7 separate regions of the Homo sapiens genome follow, and regions 1, 3, 4, 5, 6 and 7 are each linked to region 2. The links come from fine-mapping of genetic effects on gene expression. A gene starts in region 2. Each other region holds a variant in brackets. All regions are shown on one strand. Distances are between the middles of the regions. Region 1 overlaps LNPK (lunapark, ER junction formation factor). Region 2 holds the start of LNPK (lunapark, ER junction formation factor). Region 3 has its middle 86 kb from the start of LNPK. Region 4 has its middle 21 kb from the start of LNPK. Region 5 has its middle 81 kb from the start of LNPK. Region 6 has its middle 130 kb from the start of LNPK. Region 7 overlaps LNPK (lunapark, ER junction formation factor).

What was found. PIP is the estimated chance that this variant, and not a neighbour inherited with it, causes the effect.
Region 1: its variant is the best candidate, but not a certain one, in a credible set for the expression of LNPK in whole blood (INTERVAL, PIP 0.88).
Region 3: its variant is the best candidate, but not a certain one, in a credible set for the expression of LNPK in CD4 T cells (Kasela 2017, PIP 0.72).
Region 4: its variant is the best candidate, but not a certain one, in a credible set for the expression of LNPK in T cells (TOPMed, PIP 0.73).
Region 5: its variant is the best candidate, but not a certain one, in a credible set for the expression of LNPK in anterior cingulate cortex (GTEx, PIP 0.51).
Region 6: its variant is the best candidate, but not a certain one, in a credible set for the expression of LNPK in aorta (GTEx, PIP 0.62).
Region 7: its variant is the best candidate, but not a certain one, in a credible set for the expression of LNPK in monocytes (Quach 2016, PIP 0.52).

Annotation. Positions count from the first base shown.
Region 1 is chr2:175,969,558-175,973,628 of GRCh38, reverse strand. LNPK (lunapark, ER junction formation factor) reads left to right here. Exons shown (of 13, transcript NM_030650.3): 6 at 2,825-2,865. Among named protein-coding and RNA genes, the nearest start is that of LNPK, 31 kb to the left of the region's middle. The variant T/C (reference allele first, on the strand shown) is at 1,970.
Region 2 is chr2:176,000,099-176,004,169 of GRCh38, reverse strand. It overlaps LNPK (lunapark, ER junction formation factor), which reads left to right and starts at 1,903. Exons shown (of 13, transcript NM_030650.3): 1 at 1,903-2,010. RefSeq lists an enhancer at 1,490-1,709.
Region 3 is chr2:175,913,868-175,917,938 of GRCh38, reverse strand. No RefSeq gene overlaps it. Among named protein-coding and RNA genes, the nearest start is that of LNPK, 86 kb to the left of the region's middle. The variant A/G (reference allele first, on the strand shown) is at 2,417.
Region 4 is chr2:176,021,688-176,025,758 of GRCh38, reverse strand. No RefSeq gene overlaps it. Among named protein-coding and RNA genes, the nearest start is that of LNPK, 21 kb to the right of the region's middle. The variant T/C (reference allele first, on the strand shown) is at 1,727.
Region 5 is chr2:175,919,578-175,923,648 of GRCh38, reverse strand. No RefSeq gene overlaps it. Among named protein-coding and RNA genes, the nearest start is that of LNPK, 81 kb to the left of the region's middle. The variant G/A (reference allele first, on the strand shown) is at 1,924.
Region 6 is chr2:175,868,038-175,872,108 of GRCh38, reverse strand. No RefSeq gene overlaps it. Among named protein-coding and RNA genes, the nearest start is that of LNPK, 130 kb to the left of the region's middle. The variant T/G (reference allele first, on the strand shown) is at 2,239.
Region 7 is chr2:175,979,192-175,983,262 of GRCh38, reverse strand. LNPK (lunapark, ER junction formation factor) reads left to right here. Exons shown (of 13, transcript NM_030650.3): 5 at 3,395-3,453. Among named protein-coding and RNA genes, the nearest start is that of LNPK, 21 kb to the left of the region's middle. The variant G/TG (reference allele first, on the strand shown) is at 2,359.

The DNA of each region.
Region 1 (4,071 bases), 31 kb after region 2:
GTGAAGTTTAGAAAACAGCAATTTACTACAACCTGAAGTGGAATCTGCTAAGATGTACTGTAACTACTGCTGGTAAAAATATGTAACAGAAAAAGACTTAGTTGTACAAATTGTACAAAACTTTTGAAACTGTAAGGTGTTTACAGTCTATGGTTATTCATTGTATTATTCAACAACAGGTACTTCACAGAACATACTTGAATTTGTCATTTTGTAGGGCCAAAGGGAACTTCATTGCTCTCATGGACTTAACCATTGTCAGTTATGTGAATTTCAATCATGAATAGAAGCTATCTTGACTTGCCTCACAGCAGTTTGATGGCTTAGCAATGGCAAAGTTTTATTGTCATATTTTGAGCTCAAAACCTAGATTGAAATACTTCAAATGAGAAGGACCATCTTCAGTCACTGTGTTTGAATACTGACTGGCTTTGGAAATTAGCTTTTGCTACAGCCTTGATAATGGTTCTTAATTAATCCAACCTAAGATTGCAAGGCAAAACAATGTATATATGCAAAACCTATAATGTGGTGAAGTCATTTAGAAAACAACATTGTAATGACAAGTAATTTTTTTTAAAAGTGCTATAAAAATGGAAACAAGAAGCAGGATTGCCATTCCCACACAAATTTGTAGCAGATGCATTATCCGAGGTGAAATTATAGTTCCAGTAGAATTTTTCAGACCTCAAGGCAAGTGCAAAGGAAATTTCTGTGTTTCTAAATCCATTTCACTGTATAATTGAAGAGCTTCAGTCTTTGATTGGAGGTGATTAACTTCCAATGTAATAATACTCTAAAAGGCAAATGCCAAGAGAAGAATCTAATAGAATTTTATAAATGCCTTTCAAACTAGTGAATATGCTCAATTAAAATCCTATGCCTGTGGATTGATATCAGTATTTGGCAGTAACTACCTCTGTGAAAAGACATTAAAAAATCAAATATGTAAAATCTCATTACAGATCAGCATTAATGGATTATCATTTGCAATCAGTTTTGATGATAGAGAACACTTAGCTTTGAACCTCAATTAAGTGAAATGTTATCCACCCCTGAAAGTATTACATTCTTTTCCCTGGTAGACTTATATTACAAAAAATTGAACTCAATTATTATATAGGTTGAACATCCCAAATCTGAAAATTCAAAATCTGAAATCCCCCTAAATCCAAAATTTTTTGAATGCCAACATGATACTCAAAGGAAATGGTCCTTGGAGCATTTTGGATTTTGGATTTTTGGATTTGAGATGCTCAGCTGGGGTGTATTCTGCAGATATTCCAAAATTAAAAAAAAAATTGAAATCTGAAACACTTCTAGCACCAAGCATTTCAGATAAGAGATACTCAACCTGTATTTGAATTTAGTCTATAAAGTTTGTGGAAATTTTGTATTTCTTTTGTATTTCTTAGGCTGGGCTCAGTGGCTCATGCCTGTAATCTAGCACTTTGGGAGGCCAAGGCAGGTGGATAACCTGAGGTCAGGAGTTCAAGACCATCCTGGCCAACATGGAGAAACCCTGTCCGTACTAAAAATACAAAAATTAGCTTGGTGTGGTGGTACACGCCTGTAATTCCAGCTTGGGAGACTGAGGTATAAGAATTGCTTGAACTCTGGAGGCAGAGGCTGCAGTGAGCCGAGATCATGCCACTGCACTCCAGCCTGGGTGACAGAGCAATACCCTGTCTCAAAAAACAAAAAAATACAGACTTGATTTTGCTTTTTGGCCCATAAAGCCCAAAATACTTACTTTTTCCTTTACAGAATAAGTTTGCTAACCCTTGGATTAAAGTACAGATGTTTGGCTTGGTCTTATCTAACAAAAAATTACTATTCTCTTTGAAGATGTTAGCAGATTTCCTCTGCTTTTAGTAACAAGTTAGCTATCACATTAAAGACTGCTTAATCTATTTTGAAAAAAGTTTTATAGTAAAATCATCTTTTTATATGTTTGTGTTTCCTTGAA[T/C]TTTTACATAAATGATGTACTTTGAGTTGGGTATTCAGGTATTTGTTACCTAGAATTTCAGTGAAGAAGTAATAATTTTATTTATAAATTTAATTAAGTATTAAGAACAGTTATTTACATTTCATTTGATAATATTCAAGCCATAAGTTCTGCTTTCCTTAGGGAATAGTGTTTCAATCTGTATTAGTTAAATATTTCTAGAGAAAAACTAGAAACTTAAATAATTTGTAAATCAAACATTGACATTCATAAAAGATATCCTCTGAGGTGATTCTTTCTGTTCCACCATGCCAACCTATATAAGCGGGCAAATCTTAGAAATGTTTAATTTTGGAAAGTTATTAGTATTTTTTTCCATGTCCCTTCTCAGATGCAATAAGGTAGATTTTCTAGGTTTTTTAAAAAGTCGTGCTTAATATCTTCAGGCTTGACTAAGTAAAATATGTATTTATTTCCTTATAAACAAAGAGAACATTTTTATTACCAGTGTATAAAAAGAGATTTGATACTAATTTTGTAAATTAATGTGGGTGAGGTGTTGAAAGGAAAAAGAAATAGTAGAAAGTAATGTTTCTGAACACATTAAAAAGTATTTGTATATATTTCAATTTAGAAAGGTGCTTTATACTATGTAAAGTCAATTTTTCACCTCAATGGCCTATAATATATAATACAGGCAAAAATATGAACTATATGTGGGTGAAGATGGAGATAATTTTTGTCTCTACACATCAGTTAAATTTTGAAAAATCCTAAAATAAGAAAGTTTTCTTGTGTTTGCTACCGTGTGTCATTTGGCGTGATTTTTTCTTATATCTAAATATCTTAATCTTTGATTTAAATCTTGCTTTCTAGATGAAGCATTGGATGATTTAAAATCCCAGAGGAAAAAAATAGTAAGTTAACTTTTATTTAAAATTAATTTATATTAAACTAATAAGAACTGAATAATTAATGTTTATGTGTTGGAAGTTAATAACTCTCCAAGGAAGAAATATGCTTTTAGATAGCATTTTAATGATGAAGTGAAATTGTGAATATTTTTGCTAGTTAATAATGATTGACAGGAAAAAGTAGTTTAGAAGGACTTTTGAGATTCTGAGAATCTGTATCAGTTGGAAGCTGAGAAGTAAGTAAATGAGTCATATTGGAGGCCTAAATGAGGCAGAGAGGGTAAAAATGTGGGTACCAGATTGTTTATTAGAGCTAAATAAAAAAGGACAAAATATCTCCACGTGTCAGTTCTCAGGTTTTCTTGACACCAAGAAAGAGAGGGAATCAAGAAGATCGGTTGTAAGAGAGCAATTCAACATGAAAATACTGAAGAAGAGATGGGAGAGAGAGAGAGATAATTGTTTTCTTCAGAGTTTTCCACTTTCTATCAGTAACTCTGATCACATGGATATCTATTGTGGGGCTAGTTGATGCATCCCTTCAGATGTGTTGGAAAGAGGACCAAGAGTAAGACAGAAGGCGCTCTAGATATTGATACATAGTAGTCTGTAATAAGTGAATTGAAGTTGGTGTTTGACATAGAGCTACTAATTTTTTAATGATTATTTTTGAAGTGTGAAAATGATAACTGCTGATAGTATTATGTTGTATAGAAATGTATTTAATAAAATTTAATCAGGTACAAATGATCAATTCAATATATTTTAGTCTAGTATGTAACAAGTAATAATTAAGAAACCAATATTGTGAAGGTTAAGACTAATGTTAAAAATTATTCTGTGAATTGATGATAATAGATACTGGTTTTAAGGGCTTTAAGTACCTGAAAAGTAAGAGAACTTTAATTTTGAAAGGATTCCTTAGCTTTGTTTGCTCCTTATTGGGTGTCCTGTGAGGTATTTATCAAAACTGCATTGGCAATTTTGGTGGTCCTAAATTGCCAAACACAGAAATATCTTATTATTATGTTTCTGCTATTCTGCACATTATGGAACAGCCAGAAATTCAAAGTGAGGAAATACTGATGGTGTCAGTGATTTAGAAGTTGTGATATGATTGGTTTGACTTGCTGATGAGATAAAAAGAAGAGCTGGTACTGGTGATCAGAGACAAGTCCTGCTTATACCAAAATGGAGAAATATTAGTTA
Region 2 (4,071 bases):
TATTTGGAACCACCCTGTAGCCTGAAGTCCAGCCACAATAGTGTGTATGTTGATTTCTCTGCTTGTAATGTCTTTCCCTCACTTTATTTGCTCGATGAACAACTATTCTTGATATGAAGGAGGCAGTGGCTTAGTGTTACCTTCAACAGTGTACATAATCTTTCTACATTTCAGTTTCCTCATTTGAAAAATGATACTAAAAAGGTTGTTGGGAGGATTAAAAGAGTTAATGATTAAATACTTCTCTCCCTTCTCTTTCCAGGTCAAATCTCTACTCTCGGTAGAGCAATTCCCTAGGGAATTTTATCTCAGGATTAGGTTTTTGGAATCTCGTGTATCCAGACAGCTCTTCTCTGTCCCCTTGCTACCCTTTTTTCAGAGGTGGGGTATCGCTTGGTAGCCCAGGCTGGAGTACAGACACTGATGGCTCAATTGAAACCAGAGGACACATTACTGGCAAGTGGAAAGCCGTTCTTCCCAGTCTTCTTAGGAAAGGAGATCTTTCTGCGGTGAGATATATTTGCAAAACTGCACAGGACTTTAATACTTTGCAACAGCAAAGGTTGAAAAACAAAACGGTTAAATTTCCACATCAAAACAGGTGAAATGTTTCTGTTCATTTTCTTCTACATTTGGAAAGTGCCTGATCCACAGTGACACGCTAAACTTCAGTTCCCTTCCCCTCATCCTTGCAAGTGTACAGAACTGTAACTAAATATTTAGGCAATTAGGGCAAGCAAATTGCACAGTGAATTATGCGGTAGCTTCTAGTATAATAAATTTTCTTACCAACCAAACAATGCTCAGTTGCTTCTCTTGACAACCTGTTTGCATCGTCAAAGTTTAAATGTAACATATTAAAACTATTACTCTTTAAAAAATCATTGAAACTTTTTTGTGTATAAATAAAAAAATAGAATAAAAATAAATAAAAAATAGAAAAAAACCCATGAAAAATGTTTGCACATGGGGTAAAGCATGTAAAAGGGGTAAAGCATGATAAAAACCTTCGCTGAAGTTTCCCTGCTCACACATTACTGTGTGCACGTCTAGTCTTTTTCTCATTCAGGCATCATTTGTTATTTGTCTTTTCCAGTTGAGGAGGACACTTAATACCGTTTCGGCAGCGTTTCAAATCCGAGTCAAATATAGCCTGAGTGGTTTTTTTGTGGGTCCACCTATCAGGGCCTGTGAAGAGTGTTCTTGGGGTTAAGAGTTCTAAGATAGAAAACTCAGCTTATGCTGTTACCCGCAGGTTTTAAAGCAACATGATACGGCGTTTGAAGCTTACCTCACACCGGTGAGGTAAGCGTCCAGTCATCAAATGACCCTTTTTGACGTCCAAGAGTGACAGAGCCTCAAGCACTCCTGGGGACCGGGCTGACTTTTCTCCACTGGCTTGGTTGGGAACTGGCTTCTTCGGAGCTGTGTAGTCTTAATTTGCTTTGCTGCTGGCTGGCTGACAGCTGATGGGGGACTCCTCAGGACGGACTCCCTTCCAGATGCACCCATCTCCATCCTTCTCAACTCCCCAACCTTTGTCCTCCCCACTCTTCGCTCGCGCGGCGGTCTGAGACCACCAGGACCAGTTTCAGGGGTTTCCTTCTCCAGCGAGACTTGGCAGAACAGGCTTTAAAAGCAAAGGAGGCAGCGGAAGAGTAAGAAATAACTATATTCTAAGAGTCATAATAAATGGCAGTACATAACTGCGACACGACACCGAGCAGCCTAAGCTGGCTGCGGAGGCCACAAACACAAGATCCTAACCTCCCGGCCGACCCGCCCCAACAACTACCCGCCCAGGGTACGGTCACGTGACGGGGGAGCGGCGCGCGCCGACCGCGGCGCCAATTGGCGAGCGGCTGGAGCGCGGGGTTTCATGGGAAGGAGTTGGCCCGGCTTGTCTCTCTGTCAGTGGCGGCTGCTGCCTGCTCTGGAGGCAGGCTGGGCGGTGGCGGCCGAGACTGGCGGGGGTGGACGCCCGGGCCGGGCTGCGCCCGCTTCTTGCAGGTAGAACGCTCAAGGCGAGGGCAGTTGGGAGGGCTCTGCAGCGGGGAGGCATGCTGAGCTGTGCCCCTGGGAAATAAGCTGCGGGTTCCCCGCTTGCCTCTCCTTGGTGCCCCCGCCTCCTGCCAAGTGGCCTAGAGCTCTGCGGCGGCTGCTAGTCAGGCTGCGCGGTGGTCCGCGCAGACCCAGGCTCGCCGCCTTGTTCCCTGGATTTCCCAGCACACTGGCAGTGGTGGCGCTGGAGTCTTGAAACCCTTGTTTCCCCTCTAGGGCTGGTAGTTTCTCCAGCTCGGTTCTAGGAGATTCCGGGTGGTGACTGGCTTGAGCCCCAGCTCTTTGGCCCACTTGTGTCGAGCTTATCTCGACACAGGTGGGGCAAAGAGGTCAGAAGGTCCCAAACTAGCATTTCCTACGCTCAGCTGTCCGCTTTGAGCGTTCTCTCCGCTTCTCTTTCTGAGTTGTGCGGAGGCTCCAAGAGTTAGAAAGACCAGAAGGGACTGAAAACTGTCAGTGTCATGCTGCCGGGCTCTAGCGTGTGGGCGTGGAGTACGTGCTACTTAGAGAAGAGACTCTCCAACCATTGTCCTTATTTCAGGGATGGTGGGCTGTGGGGTGGAGGGGAAGGGCGAAGGTGCATTGTATCAGAGGCGTGGTAGGAGGAGAAAAACAAATCTAAATTCCGTCAGTTCATAGTTTACGGATTGAGAAAGAGTTGAAATTGGTCAACTCAGCTTTGCTGATGGTGCTTTCACAGTACTAAGCAAGACCCGTGAATCACTGAGTTTTCCGTGTTCTGCTTTTCCCAGTTGGCCTCCGGTGTGTGTTGCTCGGTGTCTACTGTTTCCTCCTTTCTTTATGGCCTGGGTGTCAGCATTGACAAAATTGACTCTATTCAACAGCGGTTTGGTGGGTGTGAGTAAGCTTGGTTTCAGGAATATGTTCAAACTGGCAGGGAATGCTCATTTCTTTTCCTCAGCAGCCCCCAGAAGACCAAGTTGACTTTTAACACATTTTCTTAAACAGGAGTGGTGCGTTTAAATTAGAATTTTAAGGTTGTCTGTTATCTATTGAGATCAGCTCAGTAATGATGTTAGTAAACTTATATAGTGTTTATATGTTATATAAACAAGAAAATACAAGAAAAGGAGAAGTTATATGGCTATTAAAAATATATGACTTCACATAGAAACATTTATAATCAAATAGTAATTTTTTGGTGGTATTTAGTTCAGATGAAAATTGACTTACCATGAAAGCAAGCACTAATCATTATATATTAAGAGTGCTTAATATATAATAGAGGTGTACTTTTCATTAAAATTCTTTTTGAGGAGCAATAAATGTGGCTTGGGCTATTTCAGAATTGTCTTTTCAGTTAGGACATTTGAAAGTTAGAATTCTAGAATAAATCACCTTTACTCTTCAATTGTATAGTATAATATGTTATGGAGGTACTGTTGATGGTGATTAAATAGCTTATACTTAACTTTGGAATTTGATAAACATAGAACTTCCTTTGCTGTTTCCTTCAAAGACCTACAAGGTTATTTAATGGCAGAGTCTACAGAATTTTTTGCTCTATTTCTTATACTAGAGAAAATGAGAGCAATCTATTTTTGTAAAAATACAAACTAATATAATTTTCCAATTTTAGAATTATGAAATAGGTGCTTTCTTTATAAGAAGTTAGAAATGTGTTTCATATAAATACATGTGTTTTCTGGTAATAATAATGGCTACAATTAAGCAGTTACTACTATGTGTCGGACACTGTGCCAAATGATACATAATTTCATTTAATTTATACAACAATTCTATGAAGTGTAGATATTTTTACCATTTTGCAAATGCAATAACTGAGGCGTGCAGAGTTTAAGTAATCTGCTCAAGATTGCATAGCTAGTATGTGGTTGAGCCATATTTTGAATCCAGATCTATTTTATTGCATTATTTTAATGTGTCTTGGAGTGAGGTGAAAATTTAAGAAAAACATTTCCCAAGATTTAAAATTCTGACACCCAAACCTGAGTGTAAATAGCCATTAGTAGAAAACATTCAAATAAG
Region 3 (4,071 bases), 86 kb after region 2:
GACCGTGAGTCAGTAGGGGAGAAATGTAGCTCTCTTCTTGGAGAATAGCTAACTATCAAAGATATTATCATTACTGTAATATTTGGATTGATTAGGTTAAAAAAAAATCAATTGGATCTCAACTACCCTTTCTTCAGGCATTAAAGAATTCTTCAAAATATTCCTATGGCCAGAAGCCATACTGTCAGGAGAAAAAGCAGCCATGCCACACTAGCGGCAAAATTAATATACAAATAAATTCAGTGCATGGGTCTTGAATATTTTTAGACTTCTGATAGCTTTATCAAGGATCGCTTTCAAATATAAGAATAGCTTAAAACTTGTCAGGTTAGTAACTTGTCACTTAGTAAAGGTGAATTTTGAAAGTAAGAAGGGAGTATTATAAGGAATCATAAGATATCATACTGGGTTTGATATTGTAAAGACTGTATTTCTACCCCTCCCCACCCCAGCTTGTTCTTTAATTGTCCCTTTGTCTCCCCCTCCCAGAAAGCTCTTGCTTATGCAACGAAGTCATAAAATTAGTTCTTTTTTTAAATGAATGTCTGCCTATTTTTCTCTCTCTTTGTTTCGAATATTGGATATCTAAAGCACAATGATAAAAGTTTTAAAAAGCTATTTCACTGCAATCTATCATTGTAACACATTAATTGTTTCTCTTGGGTTTCCAGTGAGTCTTTAGTCCTTTTAGCTTACACATTTATAAATGGATATGTACACAGCTGTATTCTTAAACCAAAACTGTCTGAGTGAGGTGCTTTGTGTGTGGGATCATACTTGCTCCCTGTAGCTCTGCTCACATGAACTACCATTATTAAAGTTTGGAATCAAGTACAGACCACTTGGTATCATCTGAAGCCATGTGAACCTCTGGCCATGGGAAAGACATTGGAACCCTTTAACTTACTCTTTACAGGCATCAGAGCAGCTGTCAAATGGTAATGTGTTTTTTTCCCTCATACTCAGGCAGGCTGGGGGCTTGGATGCCTAGTCTCACTCCTTTCCCTAGTAACTCCTCTTTATAATTTCTTCCTCAGAATGTATTTTGAGTGTGAGCTTGGATTCTGTAGGCCAAAGCCTGTTGCATGGTAAAATGAGGTTCATGACAGAATTATTAATGACAGTGGAAAAAATAGGTGATCAGAAGGTTCAGAAGTGGGAGAGTGTGTTCAAATAATGCATTTACAATATTTCAAAGTTTTAGGCTGGGCACAGTGGCTCACGCCTGTAATCCCAGCCCTTTGGGAGGCCGAGGAGGACGGATCACGAGGTCAGGAGTTCGAAACCAGCCTGACCAACATGGTGAAACCCCTTCTGTACTAAAAATACAAAAATTAGCCAGGCATGGTGGTGTGCACCTGTAATCCCAGCTACTCAGGAAGCTGAGGCAGGGGAATCGCTTGAACCTGGAAGGCAGAGGTTGCAGTGAGCCAAGATCGTGCCATTGCACTCTAGCCTGGTGACACAGTGAGAGTCCATCTCAAAAAAAAAAAAAAAGTATATATTTTGAAGTTTTAATAATGTGAGAAAATGCCCATGATTTAATATTAAGAGAAAAGTGGATATAAAGTTACACAGTATATATAGTCTGCTCTTACAAGCAAGAACACATACACACAAGTATATATAAAGAACTGGAAAGAAATACAGTCATCTTTTAACTGATTATATTTTGGTTGTAGGATATGGGTTACTTTTTTTCCTTACCCTTTTCTCTGTATTTTCTAAATTTAATATCAAAGATGTATATTACTTTCAACAATTCTAATTTTTAAAGTAAAAAAGTTTAAAATCTAAAATAATGACCTACAACAAATCATTTTATTACAGAAAAATGTTTAAATTCATGTTAATAGTTGTGTCCAAATTCAGAGCATTTTCATATGTGCAAAGTCTCTCAGGAAAGAGTTCACTTACGTTGAGCTTCAAAAGGGAGAGAGAATCAAAGCCTGAGAAGAAGAAAAAGTTTATTTGAGCAGTAAAAATATAGGGACCTCTGTTACTCTGGAAGTAGAAAAGAGGAATGAATGCTTTATGAATGATATGGGTTTAAAAGTTGGGAAGGAAGGAATCTGAGAAGCTCAGATTTCTTTTTCTTGCAGCAGCTTAAAGCACACTCAGCTTGTAGAGTAGTATGAAACCTCCCTGCATGCATTTACGTATTTCCTCCCCTTCCCTTTATAGGCACATATATAGACACACACACAGCTCATTAATTCCTTTAATTAAGAGAAATGGATTTTGTCTTCTATTAAGTACTTGCTTTGTTATACTCAATATGGCACCATAATCTTTGATCTTCCTTTAATATATTTCTTTGGAAATTTCACAACTAAGTTAATATCGAGACTGCTTCTTATGGATATTAAAATAACTTCCTAAACCTAGGTTCTGATATACGTTTTTAAATGATCAC[A/G]ATACAGTTTGCTGTAATGCATGTCAGAGCAGTTTGGTCTAGAATTGTCTTGTGACAGCAATTATAGCAAGATCTAATTCAAGCTCCACAAATCGAGAATTGTGATAATTTGTATTAATAATAGAGGTAAGAATGAATTTCACTATTTAAAAGATTAGAATTTAGGTAAATTTATAGCATATGTAAGATTTTATAGAAATATTTACCTAAGGGGTAGTTATTTTAACTGTCTATGTACAGCAGTATAAGTGAAGGCCACTCTGATGTGCTGGTTTCATATGGGAGAAACTATAATTAACCGAATGCATAATATATAGCCAGCAAGACAGTTTATATACAGTGTCATTTGGTCCTTAGAAGAATTCTTTGAAATAGATGATTTTCATCTCCGTCTTATAAGTATGAAAGCTGAAGTTCTAAGTTCAGTAACTCATCTAAGGTCACTTAGTAAGCTGCAGAGGCAGGATTTGAACACTGCTTGATCTGATTACTCAGTCCATAAACATTTCATGTATCACACAACTTCCATTCTTGTCCATTTATTGAAGTTGCCTTTTTATCTGCAACACTCCTCTTTACCTTGTATACTTTAAAGTGATTAAAATATCCTGTAAAAATGTTCCATAGTGGTTTTTTTATTCAATATTTTGAAGAAATGACGAATATCCTGAAATATGCCTTTGGTAAAATGAGCATTCCTTAGGTTGGCTTGATTTTGCCAAGCACTATTAGAAATTTTACTATTATTAAGAACCAGGATTCCCAGGCAAGATGTCCAAATAGGAACAGCTCCGGTCTGCAGCTCCCAGCAAGACCAACGCAGAAGGCAGGTGATTTCTGCATCTTCAACTGAGGTACCCCGTTCATCTCATTGGGACTGGTTAGATAGTGGGTACAGCCTACAGAGGGTGAGCAGAAGCAGGGTGGGGCATTGCCTCACCCAGGAAGCGCAAGGGGTCAGGGAACTCCCTCCCCTAGACAAGGGAAGCTGTGAGGGACCCTTCTGTGAGGGATGGTGCTATCTGGCCCAGATACTATGCTTTTCCCATGGTCTTCACAACCCACAGACCAGGAGATTCCCTCAGGTGCCTACACCACCAGGGCCCTGGGCTTCAAGCACAAAACTGGGTGGCTGTTTGGGCAGACATGGAGCTAGCTGCAGGAGTTTTTTTTTTCATACCCCAGTGGCACCTGGAACACCAGCAAGACAGAACCGTTCACTCCCCTGGAAACGGCCAAAGCCAGAGAGCCAAGTTGTCTTGCTCAGCGGATCACACCCACATGGAGCTCAGCAAGCTCAGATCCACTGGCTTGAAATTTTCGCTGCCAGCACAGCAGTCTGAAGTCCACCTGGGACTCTCCAGCTTGGTGGGGGGAGGGGCGTCCACCATTACTGAGGCTTGAGTAGGTTGTTTTCCCTTCACAGTGTAAACAAAGCCACCAGGAAGTTCGGACTGGGCAAAGCCCACTGCAGTGCCGCAAAGCCACTGTAGCCAGACTGCCTCTCTAGATTCCTCCTCTCTAGACAGGGCATCTCTGAAAGAAAGGCAGCAGCCCCAGTCAGGGGCTTATAGATAAACCTCCCATCTCCCTGGGACAGAGCACCTGGGGGAAGGGGTGGCTCTGGGCGCAGCTTCAGCCAACTTAAATGTTCC
Region 4 (4,071 bases), 22 kb before region 2:
AACAACCATTTAATTAAACATCTCTAATTTTTATTTTTAGATAACTTACAATGGAACTTATAGTTGAGACTTGATCTTGTAAAAGATTTTTTAACTGTTAAAAAAAAAAGAACCCTTGGCTTAATTTGAGTTTGAGCATTTCAAAGCTGGTATTTGCAAACTCAGAAAAAAAGAGCTTTTCATTAATCCATGATTTTGGAAACAGTTACTTTAACCTGCAACCACATACAAATAGAAAAAATCCTAATGGGACTATTTTCTTACTAAGCCTGTAACAGTTTACATTCACCTAATGGCCTCGGGTTATGAGCAAACTACTCAATTAGAGAATTTAGGCTGGTTGCCCACATATTTTAGAGCAAATTATCCCTTCACAAACGCAGAACCCCCTATATAAAACGCCTAACCAGTATTTCCTGTAAAAAAATACTATTCCCTAAATTCCCACCTTGAACCTACTAAGAATTTCTCTTTTTGCTAGGGCAAAGATTTTATGGAAATATTTGTTTTTATATCACATACCTTACTATTGGTCTTCCTGCTGGCTTGCGTTTTGACCTTCAAGCAGCTAAGAAATTATAATCAAAACACTTCTAATAAGATATTTCTTTTTAAAGTACTTTAAGCTGAGAACCTTAAGTTGGAAGGTGTAGAATCCTGCAAATTCTTTGATAACAGATCTTCTGCTTGGGGGGTTAAATGAATTTCATGGTTATCCTTAACACTTACTATTTCTTCTTAGGCCTCTTCCATTCAAAAGGGGGTCGGTGCTTCCAATCTATAAACACCCATTAAAAGTTCTCCACCCTTTTATACTTGGCTGCTGGTCTTAATTGTCTGCAGATGGGTGGATCACTGCATTTTTTTTTTTTTTTTTTATTTCAAAGGTAGAGATTTGCAAAATGTAAACGAGCCTATTAAAAGTTCTAAATCAAGACTCTCAACATCCATTAAAAGGATCCATGTGTAAATAGGGACAGAACTCAATCGAAAAGTGTCTTTTTGTAACAAAAAATTTTCACTAATATCTAAGAAAAGTGTATATCACCATGAATGCATTACAAATGTATTCAACACAAACAGTGCTTTGCTAGAGGGCTACTTAAAAATTTCATGCAAAGTTTGAACTAAGGAAAAAAATATGTGCTTGCAAAACATTATTGTTTTATTTTATAACAGCTGATAGATAAGAGATGCAATGTAATTATCCTACATTATAAATTTTCATTGGGTTGAAAAGGAACAAAAGCTTTTGTTATATTTTCACAGCAGAATAAAAATTCAATACAATATAGACCTATAGTACGGACAAAAATATTTCACTGTATTTAATATAAAATCTTACAATGTGATTATTTTCAGTTCACCTACTGAATTATTGTTTTCTATGTTAGTCAAATTTCTTTTAAAAAAATGAACCGCAATTCACTGTATTGCTTGTGACTAAGAACTGAACCCCAGGCTAGCTGTTCTTGGCACTGTGGTGTTCTGGTTTATCTTGCCTGAGGCACTGACAGTTTATCTCAGATTCTACAGTTTCTTCCATTCTTCTTCCACTAGCTTTTCCCCTCAGTCTTGCTTTTCATTAGCCCACCCTGATGGTTGACCACTTCTAATCCATAAATTAAGCAGACAGAAAACACAAAGATGTGTTTCTTTTATCTTTGAAAATCAAACCCATCACAAACTTTATTTAATTTGATTTTCTTGGGTCTAAAATAAAATA[T/C]TCCTAGGAGCAAAAAATATTGCTAGAATCTCTGCTCTTAAAAACCAGCTTTATATACTCACCTTGCAGTGGAGGATACAAGGGAATTGCTTTGGCTTTATTCACTTTGGCTTTGAGCACCATAATCTGTGCCCAATAGTGAAATCAAGGTTTGAACATCTGACAGCTGTATTTCCCTCATCCTTTCTCTAAATGCAATGCAGAATTTATTTAATTTTGGGGGAATGGTGTTTCCCCCTACACTCCAGTTTTAATACACAGATTATAGTGACAATATTTAAAAGCTGTTTTGATCTTTGAGATTGTATTTTCTTTCATTTTTTACTTAACTTTTCTGAGTGTGACGAAAAGGGAAGCAGAAGTTGGAAATCTAAATAGAAACAAAAAAACAATTTCAGCTATTCTCCTTGAGCTTGCAAAAATGCATTTACAAGCTCTCAACAAAATTTTACTTTTAAAAGCCATTTTAATATTTGTTATCTTTTACCAAGTAAAATAAGCTGATGCTTTTACATGTGGATCTTATTATGTGAATAGCCGTCTAAGCCTGCTATTGAACATAATCATATGAATTACGAACTGTGACTTTATTTCTTTTATAATCTTTGTAGTTCTTGCCATTACTTTTACATGTCTATGTCTGGCATTATGTAGCTTTGAAACTATGCCAAAAATATTTATTGTCGTATATCTGGCATTCTCATACTTTGTGGGTGAGTTTGGTTTCCAAGCTGGGCAAAACTTATTAGCAGATACAGTTTTTGGCATTCGTTTGAAAAAAATCTTAAGTAATTTTAGTACCCCCTCAAGTATAACCTTTTGCACTCCTTGAAACATGTATGGAGTTGAAATTTCAATGCTTGAGATATCTCTTTTTCCAATTTTAAGTAATTATTCATTTATAAAGTACGAAAAATGGAACAAAAAACAACAAAAGGAAAAAGAAAAAATGAAATAAAAGAATGAATTTAACCGCAAACTGGAATATTTTGAAATATTCACATGGATGGTTTAGATAAAATATTTCTCTGACATGCAAATCCCAGAGAACTGGCACGGGGTACCATTGATACAGTGCAGTGCTAGTAACTTGTGGTTGTATGAAGTAACAATAATGATGAAAAGCAAAATATGTATGCATAATTCTTTTACTAATCTCTTTGCAGCTTTACTAGATTCTTTTTTTTTTTTGATACAGTGTCTTGCTCTGTCTCCCAGGCTGGAGTGCAGGGGCACAAACATGGCTCACTGTAGCCTCAACTTCCAGGGCTCAAGCAATCCTCCTGCCTCAGCCTCTTGTTAGCTGGAACCACAGGCGTGTGCACCATGCCTGGCTAATTTTTTTATTTTTTGTATTTTGATTTTTTGTAGAGACAGGATCTTACTTTGTTGCCCAGGCTGGTCTCAAACTCCTGGGCTCAAGTGATCCTCCCATCCTCCCACCTTAGCCCCCCCACAGTGCTGGGGTTACAGGCATGAGCCACCACATCTGGCCTAAATTCTAGTAAGAAGTGTGATAAAGATATTCAGTTCCTGCCATTGGTTTATATACCAGACTCCATCACTATATTGTTGTTCATTATGTTCAGGCATAGCACAGTACTCTTCATGTAGTTCATTCTCAATATACTTTTGTGTACATACAGTAACCTATTAGCACTATTTAAGATGGTATTAAGGTATTGTTAAACTGTTAAATGTTATTTTCTAAAAGAAGGTAACATCATGACTGTCATACAAACATAAAACTAGCACATATCAAAAATCCTTTTTAATGCATAATTAATGAGGGAACCAGTAAGATGTTATAAGTAGTTAAAAAAAGAATTCAAAGAACCACATACATAGGGGCAATAAGGAATGCTGAAAATTGATGCAGAATTAATCTATCCTGATAGCAATAATCAATTGCGTTATACTGGATAAAATCATTTGCATTTCTATGGACAAGAGTCATTTGTATTATCCATTTTCTATAATTTACAGAGTAGTAATAATACTTATACCACATACTTGGTAAAGATTATTTTGAGAATTAATATATGTATTTTTATATTTAGATATTCATTAATTTTTCTCAGCCAACAAATTCTTTTTGAATACCTACTATGTGTCAGGCACTGTATGTACTGCTGGTGATCAAAAACAGCACTCGTAGATCCACAGCTGAGTGATGAAGACAGACATTAACTAAATGATCATAAAAATAAATGTACAATTTAAACTGTGATCGGAGCCACAAAAAAGTCTACAGAGCTCTGAGAGAGTAAAATTTGAATAAGACAATCTCAATGCAAGTTAATTTTACTTTAAGTAGCATATATATTTCCTGATGTGTGTTCGTC
Region 5 (4,071 bases), 81 kb after region 2:
TTCATACTATTAATGGACTTTAGGAGAAGGAAACACCATCCAGTTATATAGTTCTATATTATTTGATGCTTTTTAAAACCTAGATTTTCTGCTTTATGCATTTTCTCTATTTTTTTTAAGTATTTCTACCTTCCTTTTTGTTTGGCAGCAGAATTAATGGAAGTTGGAAGTACTCTGGAAAGATTAAAAAATGTTCTCAAAAGTCTCCCTCGTAAATTAGACTTTTAAGTTTTCAGTCCAGGATTCTGTGAGAACAGGCCAGATTTTCAGCTGCCAAAGACTTTTACCAGATCCCTGGCACTTGATTTAGGACAACTGGGAAAAATCATTTATTTTCATGAAAATAAATATTTTGAAGGGTGAAGAAAGTGGGAAATTAAATGTACATTGTTTGAATACCTTCTCTCGGTCAGGCACTATGTGCTAAGTACTTTCACACAGTTCTCACAACAACCGTGTGAGGAGATAGAATCCTATCAAACAGATTAAATTCATTCCCCAAGACTAGTTTATGGGCATTGAAAATGGAATCTGAACCTAGGATCTTTAAGTCCATGCTCTTTTTACTACCTATGAATCCTCTCCTTTGGTAGATGTAAAAAATAGATTAATGCTCTTTTTGGTTCCTCATATTTTTCTGATAATTGTTACTTCTTCAGGGCAGTCTTAACCTAAGACTTACCAGACACTCTATTCAACACCCTTCCTTGAAATTCCTTCTAATGTTATCTCCCATATCAAACTATGAACTTCTTGAAGGCAGGACCATATCTGTTGTTGCTCATCATTTTATTCCCAGTGTTCAACACATGGAAGACAATATCTGTTGAATAGGTAGTATGCACAAACAGACCACACAGAATGGGAAATATACTTAGTGCAGATTTTTGTAGTGTGGGGAATTTTGCAAATCTTAAATTGTTTGAACTATTGAGTAGGGAAAGGGCCAGATAACTTGTTCTTCACAATTTAGGCAAACTCCAATTGGTTCCTCTGTCTTTTTTTGATCCATTGTCCACATTGCTCTTGGAGCTTTCTAAAACACACATCTTTAAAAATATTCTGCGACTCACTTGTATATTGCAATTCCGTAGGCAACTTGCAAGGAAGCCCTTCAGAATCAAAAATCACCTTTTCAGCCTATTTCCCAGTACTCTCCTTTATACTCCGGCCATAGATAAGTATTTCATACATCTGAGAGATGCCATGCACTCTCATATGATCTATTCTTTTTAAACTCTCACTTCTTCAAGACCCAGCATTATCTGTAATCTTTTGAGTGACATCATCCTCAACTTTTCTAAGCAGTTACTTGCTTTTTTGTTGATTGCACTTTATATACTTTATGTAACTTGTAGTCTCCTGACCTCTTGTTATTTGTTCTGTCTACCTCCCTCATTTGACCTAACACTGAAGATAGGCCATGTTCCTTAATTTTTACTTTCTCACTTTTGCTGTCCTCAAACAGAATAACAGGAAATAAAAACAAAACCTGTGCCTGTTACAGGTATGTTGAGTGGATTCATATAACTGATAGATCTGACTTTCTCAGCATCAATGGTTGGTGTGCTGCTTCTCTTGAAACTCTTACAAATCCAGGAATTGGAGCTAGAAAGTGAGAAGGACTAGCTCAAGACATAAGAATAGGGAAACTGAGCACATTGAGGGTGGGGGGGATTCATGTGTTTTGTACTCTCAATGCCTGACATAGGAAAAGCTCTCATCATGAATGAATTGAACTGGAGATGACCTCACAACACAGGTGTTCAGGGGGATTACAGTACAGGAGCTCATCCCTCATTCACATGAATCCATGATTTGGATAAGGTTTCTAACTTGTACATAAAATATTTTGTGTTCGTTTAATGAGTTCCCATTGTTGAAGATCCCAATACCCCTCACTCCCTGCTCCCATAAATATCT[G/A]TAGAATGAGGTATTTAAAAATATTTTTTGTTTTTATGTTGATTTTTATTCATTATCCGATTTCTGACTCATTTAGTGTTATAACTGGCATTAAGTTAGAAATGGTCTGGATAAAGTTGCTGCTTTTTTGACATCTGTGTCTAGTGGAGCCTGGACACACTCACATGTACATACATACAACATGCAAAATAATGTAAGAGTATTTTCTCTTTCAGTATATAGACCATAGGAATTCAGACCTTAAAGTCAGATACATGCATCTAAAAGTATTAAAAGGGGCTGGGTGCGGTGGCTCACACCCATAATCCTAGTACTTTGGGAAACTGAGGCGGGCACATTACCTGAGGTCAGGAGTTCCAGACTAGGCTGGCCAACATGGTGAAACCCCGTCTCTACTAAAAATACAAAAATTAGGGTGGGGAACCCTATAATCCCAGCTACTCCAGAGGCTGAGAGGAGAACTGCTTGAACCCTGGAGGCAGAGGTTGCAGTGAGCCGAGATTGCAACACTGCACTCCAGCCCAGGCGACAGAGTGAGACTCTGTCTCAAAAAAATAAAATAGGCCGGGCGTGGTGGCTCATGCCTGTAATCCTAGCACTTTGGGAGGCCGAGGCAGGCGGATTGCCTGAGCTCAGGAGTTCGAGACCAGCCTGGACAACATGGTGAAACCCTGACTTTACTAAAATACAAAAAATTAGCCAGGTGTGGCTGTGTACGCCTGTAGTCCCAGCTACTCGGGAGGCTGAGGCAGAAGAATTGCTTGAATTCCAGAGGCAGAGGTTGCACTGAGCCAAGATCGTGCCGCCGCACTCCGGCCTGGGTGACAGAGCGAGACTCCATCTCAAAAATGAATAAATAAATAGCATTAAAAGGAAATGTGTTACTGTACATGGCAAGTGTAATTGAAACTTGCTCTAGTTGTGGTATAATTTATGAATTAAAGCTAACCAAGTTATTCATTGTCTTTTTTTTTCTTTCTGAGATGGAGTTTGGCTCTTGTTGCCCAGGCTGGAATGCAATGGTGTGATCTCGGCTCACTGCAACCTCCGCCTCCTGGGTTCAAGCGATTCTCCTGCCTCAGCCTCCCGAGTAGCTGGGACTACAGGTGCATGCCACCATGCCCAGCTAATTTTTGTGTTTTTAGTAGAGACGGGGCTTTACCATGTTGGTCAGGCTTGTCTTGAACTGCTGACCTCAGGTGATCCTCCCACCTCGGCCTCCCAAAGTGTTGGGATTATAGGTGTGAGCCACCACAACCAGCCTCATTGTCTTTTTTTTTTTTTTTAATTTAAGTTCTAGGGTACGTGTGCACAATGTGCAGGTTTGTTACATGTGTATACATGTGCCATGCTGGTGTGCTGTACCAGTTAACTCGTCATTTGCATTAGGTATATCTCCTAATGCTATCCCTCCCCCTTCCCCCACCCCATGACAGGCCTCAGTGTGTGATGTTCCCCACCCTGCGTCCAAAATGAAACTGGCTACTTGTGTCTTACTGTCTTTAGCAAGAATTCTAAAGGCTTTGCATAGCTGCCATGAGTTGGCTCTTGTTAAATTACAGTGGTTTGCTTTTTAAAAATATCTTTTTTAGCAGCAACAAAAAAGAAAATATATGTGGAACGGACTTGTATTCTCAATTAAGAATATCCACATAGCCAAATAATACATGAATTTTCAGAATGGGATGCTGTGAATTGTGTGAAATAAAGTACAGACTGAAAGAAAATTGATATGCTTGAGACATGTTTTGGGTAGATGTTATAGGTTCTTCCTGGTCCTTTTCAGCACAGTGTTTTCTTTTTTGAAGACCAGATTCTTTTTGTATGTTTGTATGATCTTCTCTTCAATAAGGCAATCTCCTGTAGTTGGGCTTGATGAAATTAAATTATGTTTTATTTATTTCAGAATAACCACAATCACTATAGAAAAAGGAGGGGATTTTTTCCTTTCCACTGTTTCTCCCTGCACCTGAACCATCAAAGGAGAAAACCACAGCTGTTCATGTTTTAGTACATTCTGATAAGACCAATTTATCTACCTAGCAAACAATTGTAAGCAAAAGTTTGAAGCCAGAGTGAATGTCCAACAATTATTTCAGGTCGGGATGGCACAAGACTACTAAATTGTGTGTTGGCAAAGTAGTGCTG
Region 6 (4,071 bases), 130 kb after region 2:
TAATGGTAGCTCTGTGGTAACCGCATCTCATTCCCATTTTATGTTGAATTTCAGTTTTCGTGGCCTCTGAAGATATGATTTGGTATGTGTTGGCAGATTGACAAGAGGGAAAATTTCCAGGGATGGAATCCAAGGTTGTCACTATTACTCCTGGAACATAAATATAGGATAATGGCCAGTGGGATTTCCCTATGGTCCACAGTAGTGTAGGGGAAATAGGATTCATCTAAGATATTCCCATCTGGCTAACAAGAAGGTGATATTTTGTTTCATTCCTACTATTACTCCTTGGGTGTTTGCTGTCTAGGGGCCTCTGTGGAGAGGATGGAATTTGTATATTCTTGCATCTCTAGCCAAATACCATCTAATTTCTCCTTAACCATGAATAAAGCTTTTACAGATACAGATATACTGGAGAAATCTAAAATTGGGAAGGGATGTGATGCAAGCACGTTGCAGTTTGGAGAACAAGCACATAAATTTTTGTCTGATGTAATTTTTGTACTTTGGAAGGTAACTGAGAAAGGGATAGGAACAGGCGGATCTTTAATTAAGTGAACAATTTTAGAAAGGAGAAAAACATTATGGAAATTGAAAAGAAATATTTTGGATTCTGACTCAGGTCCTGGTATGAGTTTGGAATGTTCTAATCTGTTCAGCATGAGCCAGAAATAGTTTCCTAAGGAAAAAGACACAGACTCCTCAAAGCCGATCTTGGCCTCCTGTTTGCTACCTCTGCATTTGGTGCACAGGTAGACCCATTTCTTTTCTTTTCTTTTTTGAGATGGAGTTTCACTCTTGTTGCTCAGACTGGAGTGCAATAGCACGATCTCAGCTCACTGCAACCTGTGCCTCCCAGGTTCAAGTGATTCTCCTGTGTCAGCCTCCCAGGTAGCTGAGATTACAGGCTCTTGACACCACACCCGGCTAATTTTGAATATATATATATATATATGTTTTTAGTAGAGACGGGGTTTCACCGTGTTGGTCAGGTTGGTCTTGAACTCCTGACCTCAAGTGATCCACCCGCCTCGGCCTTTCGAAATGCTGAGCCACTGCGCCAGGCCAGGTAGATCCATTTCTGATGGCTCTTCTACAGGTGTGGCCGGTTGATGTAATGAAATTCTAAGCTTGGTCCATGTGGCATTGCAGAGTGTGCCAGAGTTAATGTCCCATCATTCCTAGCCACAAAATTGCCCACCTTTTCCTAACCATGTGACCTTAGTCAGTTCTCAACTCTCTGGTCCTCAATTTCTTTCTTTTTTCTTTTTCTTTTTTGCTAGGCTTCCTGGGGTTATATCAACTGCTTTATTTATAAAACTGAGGGTGATAATATTTGCCCTGTAGCTTTATGAAGTTTTGACAGAAAGGGGTAATATAGCTAAAAGTGCTTTACAAATTGCTAAATGATACAAAGATGTAAGGAGTTATTAGTTAATCTGTACTAAAAGCATGACAAAGGAACTTGGGAACATTCCAGTCTAAATCAAAAGGCTCAAAGTGGTTATCAGCTGTCCTTAGGCAAGTTAGTAGGAGCAAGGTTACATTGTAGTTGGCCTCAGTGGTCAGTCAGACTGGAGTTTAAATCTTTGCTTTACTAATGTACAACTCAGTACTGTGAGCATCAGTTTCCTCATCTATAAAAATAGCTACAATAGCTACCTCACGTAGTAATTGTGAGGATTCAGTGAGGTATATGATGGAGTAACTTATACAACTATGTTCCTGTTACCTGCTTAGTGAATGTTGATTTTACTCCCCCAGCCATACATGGATGTCAGTATTTATTCCAGAAGCATGTGCAGTACATGAAAGGGCATCCAAGACACTGTGAACCACTTTTTTGGACCAGCCTGGCTCTTCTAACCAATCTGAAAAAGACAGAATTCAAGGCCTGCTGTACAAGCAGGAGGCAGCTCCCTCCCTTCCCCCTGCACCCAAATAAATATTGCATCTCCAACAGGCTTATTCCTCCTGGAAAAAGCATCACTCCTTCAAATGTGCTCCTTTACAACACAAATATCTCTTTAAGAAACACATTATTATTAACCATTAGCTCTTCAGCCTGAGTTAGAGAAGCATCTTAGAGACAGGGTCAGATTCTATTAGTGAGTTGGGAGACTATTCAATGTAGTCAAAATTACCATCAAATTGCCAGGAAATTCGACTACACATGGTTTTGTGTGTATGTAATGTCTAACACAGCTTTTCCTCAGTGTTGGAATAGATTGCTGTTTT[T/G]GGGTGAGCACCAGATGAAGCATTTGACTCGCATTCAGGGTTCAGGTTATACAAAAAAAAATTATTTTTATTCTGGAGGGTACAATTTAAGTCGAATTTTTTCAAATTAAATTTATGTTTGATGTCACTCACTGTACTTTACTGGGGTGAGCTAGCTGGTACAGGGCCCTAGTGGGATGGGATACCAAGCAGATATGTTTTAAAAGAGAAACAAGGTGGAGGGATAGGTCTGAATCTTGGATCATTGTTTAAAGAAGATGGGTCTGGTTAGGTGTTTTAGTCTGGTTAGGCTGCTGTAACAAACTGTCATAAACTGGATGGCCTATAAACAACAAACATTTGTTTCTCATAGTTCTGCAGGCTGTGAAGTCCAAGATCAAGGCACCAGCAGATATAGTGTCTTGTGAGGCTCTTTCCTTACTGGTGGGAGGGGCTAGCTACCTCTTCGTGGTCTCTTTCATAAGGGCACTAATCTCAATCAGGAGGGCTCTGCAATATTCAGATTGTAGCATCAGTGATGGGATGCTCTGGGAAGCCAGAGGGCAACAGGAGAACACTGGGGAGAAGGAGGGTGACTGAAAGGCAAGATGTTTCCAAAGACCTGTGCTTCCTAAATAGTAAATGCTCAACAAATAATTAAGTAAATGAATTAATTTTGACTGTTTGCAGAAAGTTTGTTCCGGCATGCACCCCCACCAGTGAATATAAGAATGCCTGTCTTTCAGTACCCTTCCTTGCATTAAATATTTGCTATAGTCTGAGCATTTGTGTCCCCGTCAAAATTCATATGTTGAAATCCTAACACCCAAGCCTCCAGGAGGAGATGAAATCATGATCTCATGATTGGGATTAGTGCCCTTGTAAAGAGACCCAGAGGGCGAACTTTCTCTTTCCACCAAGTGTGGGTGCAGGAAGATGGCGCCATCTATGAACCAAGAAACGGGCCCTCCCCAGACACCGATTCAGTGTCTTGATCTTGGACTTTCTAGCTTTCAGCACTGTGAGAAATAAATTTCTATTGTCCAGTTTATGGTATTTTGTAATTGCAGCCCTAATGGACCAAGATAATATTCTAAAAATAATTTCTGCCAATCTGATAGAATATGTTATTTCAATTTTATTGTTAATGTGCATTTTAAAAGACAAGTGCCAGACTCTTCATTTTGCAGAGTAGAAAAACAAAAAATAAGCTACTTCTATACTTGTCCTGATTTCAGCCACCTCAACCTACACTGCTCTGATGCCCACAACATTCTGTGTCAGTCATTGCCCTAAGTTGAGATTGTTTGACCCTAGCTGCCCCTTCAAAGGACTTGTCATTTTGACCTAGTCTGGGCTAATGTTGACTATACCCTAGGCCTGCTTCCAATTCGAACATGCCCTATCCCAAGGAGGTGGCTAACATCTACCTCACACAGACCCTCTGCTGAAGACACGTGCTGTCCCCCACTCCCCTATCCTCTTCTGACCCTCTCCCACTCTCTTTCCTTCTCTGCATATATTCAACTTCCACCCATCCCACAACTGCCAGCTCAAGCCCCTCTTCCTTTCAGGAGTGATTTCTTTCCCCATTGAATACATCATACTTATTGAGCAAGCTACTCATTTAACAAGACTATCAAGTAAGTGGCACAGATAATAATTATCTTTTGTAATAAAAGATTTATGCATGTAGTAGGCAAATGATAACAACAATGGTCTCTGGAGTTGATGAGAAGTTTATCACAGCAGCCTTGTTTCTCAGATGGGAAGGAAGAATTACAGCCCAGGTCCAATTCAATAAGCAGTACCTTTGTGGTATAACAGCTCTGAATTCCAGTCTTCCCAGTCAGG
Region 7 (4,071 bases), 21 kb after region 2:
ACTCTTTGTAAATAGTGCACTTCTGAATAATTTCTTTTTAATTCCTGCCTTCTCTCTTTTTTTATTGGAACCAAACTGAGGAGTGTCTGCCTGTAGCTGTGCATCTTGTTCTCATTGTTACAAACATGGGTTTTAAGTTTTACACTTGGAAAAGTTTACCTTATTACCTCTTTGTGAAATATGCAGTTTTCTTGTTTTGCTTCCACTTTTTGGAGCCCCTGTGTAATAATCTCCATTGCTTTTGAGAGTGCCTCCACATATTCTGATGGTTGAGTTTTAGTTATATCTCTGTTTTACCAGAGAAGTAGTTTGCAGTTTTATTTTTATTCTCCTTGTTGTTTGGATTATTTTTATGAAGAGAAGGGGGAAGTGGATCTTATGCCACTATTCTCTAACTAGAGGTTAGTAATAATATCCTTAATATCGTCAATATCTTCACAAAATATGTTGCTATATTTTAATACATTATTTTTAATTATTGGGAGAGCAAAACCTTTGTTGGGATAACTAAAACAGAGTCCTGAAGTACTTTAGTTCTTTTTCTAAATTTTATTTAAAAATATAAAAGGGCTAGGCATGATGGTTTATGCCTGTAATCCCAGTGCTTTGGGAGGCAGAGGCAGGAGAATCACTTGAGGCCAGGAGTTCAAGACCAGTCTGGGCAACATGGTGAGATCCTGTCTCTACAAAAATAACAAAAAATACCAAAGAATTTCATTTAATTTAGCCCTAAAGAAAAATAAATTCTGTTTTACCTTTTGAAGTCTTGAAGACTTGACATATGGAAATGTCTGTTGTTTGATAGCTTATGTTATCTAGGAGGAATTCTGATAAAAACCAGAGGAATTTATTGTCCACAGAGAGGATTTAGTGAGTTTTATTTTGAAGAGAGTATATTTCAATTTTTGTAGTATTTACACTGACAATTATATATGCTTTTTAAAAAGTATCTACTCATTTAAGAAAATTTATACATTTCCTACAGAATTCTAGCCACTATCTCTGCAATTCCATCTTTTTTTCCCCGTTTTCTTTCTCTGTATGCTTTTTAAAAGTCCTCCTTCCAGCCTGCTACTATTTCAGTGGGTTTGCACTGGAGAAGTGATACGAGACTTTTTTATTATTGCGGAATCCTTGAGGGTTATGGGCATTATGCTTAACCTATATTCTCTTATCTCCCTTCCCTTGGTAAGGACAAAGCCTGGTGTTTTTTGTACTTTTAGGTAATTGTCCAAATGCCAAATAGGAATCTGGTGCTAGTTATTTGGTGTTTTCATGTCACAAAAATAAATCATCACAATATTAAAAAAAAGTGTATTATCTATTCCTGTGTAACAGATTGCCCCAAAACTTAGTAGCTTAAAACAACAGATGTTTATTATGTCTCAGCTTTTGAGGGGCAGGAATGTTAAGAGCTGCTTAGCTGGGTAGTTCTATCTCAGGATCTTTTGTTCTTAGGTAAATTGCAGTTAAGCTGTTGGTAGGGGCCACAGTCATCTCAAGGCTTAACTAAATCCATACAATCACTGTAGATAAAGTCATTGCAGATCTTTACTCCCTCTGCTGTTATCCAATCTCCAGCTCACTGCTCGGTAGGCATTTGCAATTCCCCTGACTTTCTTCATTCTGTTCTTGTGTTCCTTTTGCTTTTTTCTTGAGGTCTTTTTCTTTTCATATAGGCTGTTTTTTGGCAAGCCTATGTTTAGTTTCCTTTTTCTTTGTATAATCCAGGAATTTACATGCCAAAGCTAATTGTCTTGCCACCACCAAAATGCATTCTGAATTCAAATCCCAATAAGATATCTGGTGTGATCCTACTCACTTTGGCTGATTTTTCCCTAATCTACTCCTAAATTCACACAGGTGGCTGTTAGCAGGCATCAGTTCTTTGCTGAGTGTTTACCACAGACCTTTCTTCCTCACTGCATGGACCTTTTCATAGACTTCTTTGACTGTTCTCATATCATGACAGCTGTCTTCTCACAGAGCTTGTAATCCAGGAGAGAGAAAGACAAGTGAAAGAGGAGGCCCAAAATGGAAGCTGCAGTCCTTTATAACTTAATCTTGAAGTGATACACTATCACTTCTGCCATGCTGTTGGTGGCACAGACCAACACTGGTGAGAGAGGACTACACAATGGTGTGAATACCAAGAGACAGGGATCACTGGTGACTACTTGCAGGTTAACTCCCCAAAATAGCAAATGCTGTATTTCAGAGTGAAGAACTAATTTTCATACTTATATTCTGAATTTATTTCCAGTACAATCAAATTTTTTTTTACAAGAGATACAATGTATGTTTTAAGATGATGAATAATGTTTATATACTTCTTTCTTTCTTTTTTTTTTTTTTTTT[G/TG]GGACAGTCTTTCTCTGCCGCCTAGGCTGGAGTGCAGTGGCATGATCTTGGCTCACTGCAACCTCTGCCTCCTGGGTTCAAGTGATTCTCCTGCCTCAGCCTCCCAAGTAGCTGGGACTACAGGCGTGTGCCATCACGCCTGGCTAGTTTTTGTATGTTCAGTAGAGATGGGGTTTCACCATGTTGGCCAGGCTGGTCTCAAACTCCTGACCTCAGGAGATCCACCTGCCTTGGCCTCCCAAAGTGCTGGGATTACAGGCGTGAGCCACCGTGCCCAGCCTTATGTACTTATTTCTGCCAGGTTCTATGGAGAAGAGGTATTTTGCTATGTTTACATTGAATTTAGGAGATGACCCTGACAAGTTTGTGATGAGGATTATTCATTTAGTTTCTTTTAATTCTTTCAATTCATTTGATGTCTTACTAATGCAAGGCCTAAAGAATTATCCTTATAAAATCTTTGGGAGGAGATATTTAGCTAATTTTACTCATCAAGTATTTATTTGAAGGTAAGGTTTTTGTTTATTTTTCCTTCAGGTAGCTTAATCTCTTAGAGTAGAGACTGTCCCTCTATTGTTAAATAATAGGGAAGGAGTGGCAACTTACATTTGTATAATGCTCTTACATTTGTAAAAGCATTTTTCCTTAATGTGTGGGAATAGACAAATTAAGTTTTTGGAATTGATGCTTACTTAGTAAGGGATTCTAATATTCTCAATCTTTTGCGGGGTGCATAGATTCCTTTCAGGCTGATGAAAGCAATGGTCTTTCCAGAGAAATGCACTTATGCACACAAAGGTAATTTTGTAATTTAAGGGGATCATCAGAAGGTCTGTGGACTTTAGGTTGAGAACTCCTCCTTTGAAAGCACAGGTTCTGATGTTCTCTGGCAGAAATAAACGCTTTTTAGTTTTCTGTATATAAAGGGAAACAATGTACCTAACTCTAATTGGAAATATATGTTTTCATTTTACATGGCTTCTAATTCGCTTTTTCTAATGATGTTTTTTGTTTCTGAATTTTGCTTCCCTTTTAGCATCTGGAGCATAAGAACAGTAATTATTTTCTTCTTTTCCAAGAGAACAGAAAGAAATAGTAAGTTTAATTCCAATTTTTAATAAATATTTTTTAAAATACCTATTTTAGAATGTGCTGGTAAGACAGGTTGTAAAATATGATATTGGAATGATAATGTGTTAAGTATTGAAGAGTTGTTTATTATAAAGCATGAGAAAGGTTATAAATGATCAAGATGGTTCTGTTTTTAATTTGTGTTATTTCCATCTTGTTCATTTAGATTTTTTTTTACACAAAACAAACTTTTTTTTTTTTTTTGAGACAGAGTCAGGGGCATAGGAAGAGCCTGTCGCCCAGGCAGGAGTGCAGTGGCACGATCTCGGCTCACTGCAACCTCCGCCTCCCAGGTCAAGTGATTCTTGTGCCTCAGCCTCCAGAGTAGCTGGGATTATAGGTGCGTGCCACCACTTCCAGCTAATTTTTTGTATTTTTATAGAGACAGGGTTTCACCATGTTTCCCAGGCTGGTCTCGAACTCCTGAGCTCAGGCAATCCGCCTGCCTCTGCCTCCCAAAGTGCTAGGATTACAGGCGTGAGCAATGGTGCCCGACCAAAACAAACATTTTTAAATAAAGAGAATTTATATTTGTTAAATTAATCTTTATGGAAAACTTGGTTTGTTACAGAGTCTTGTTTC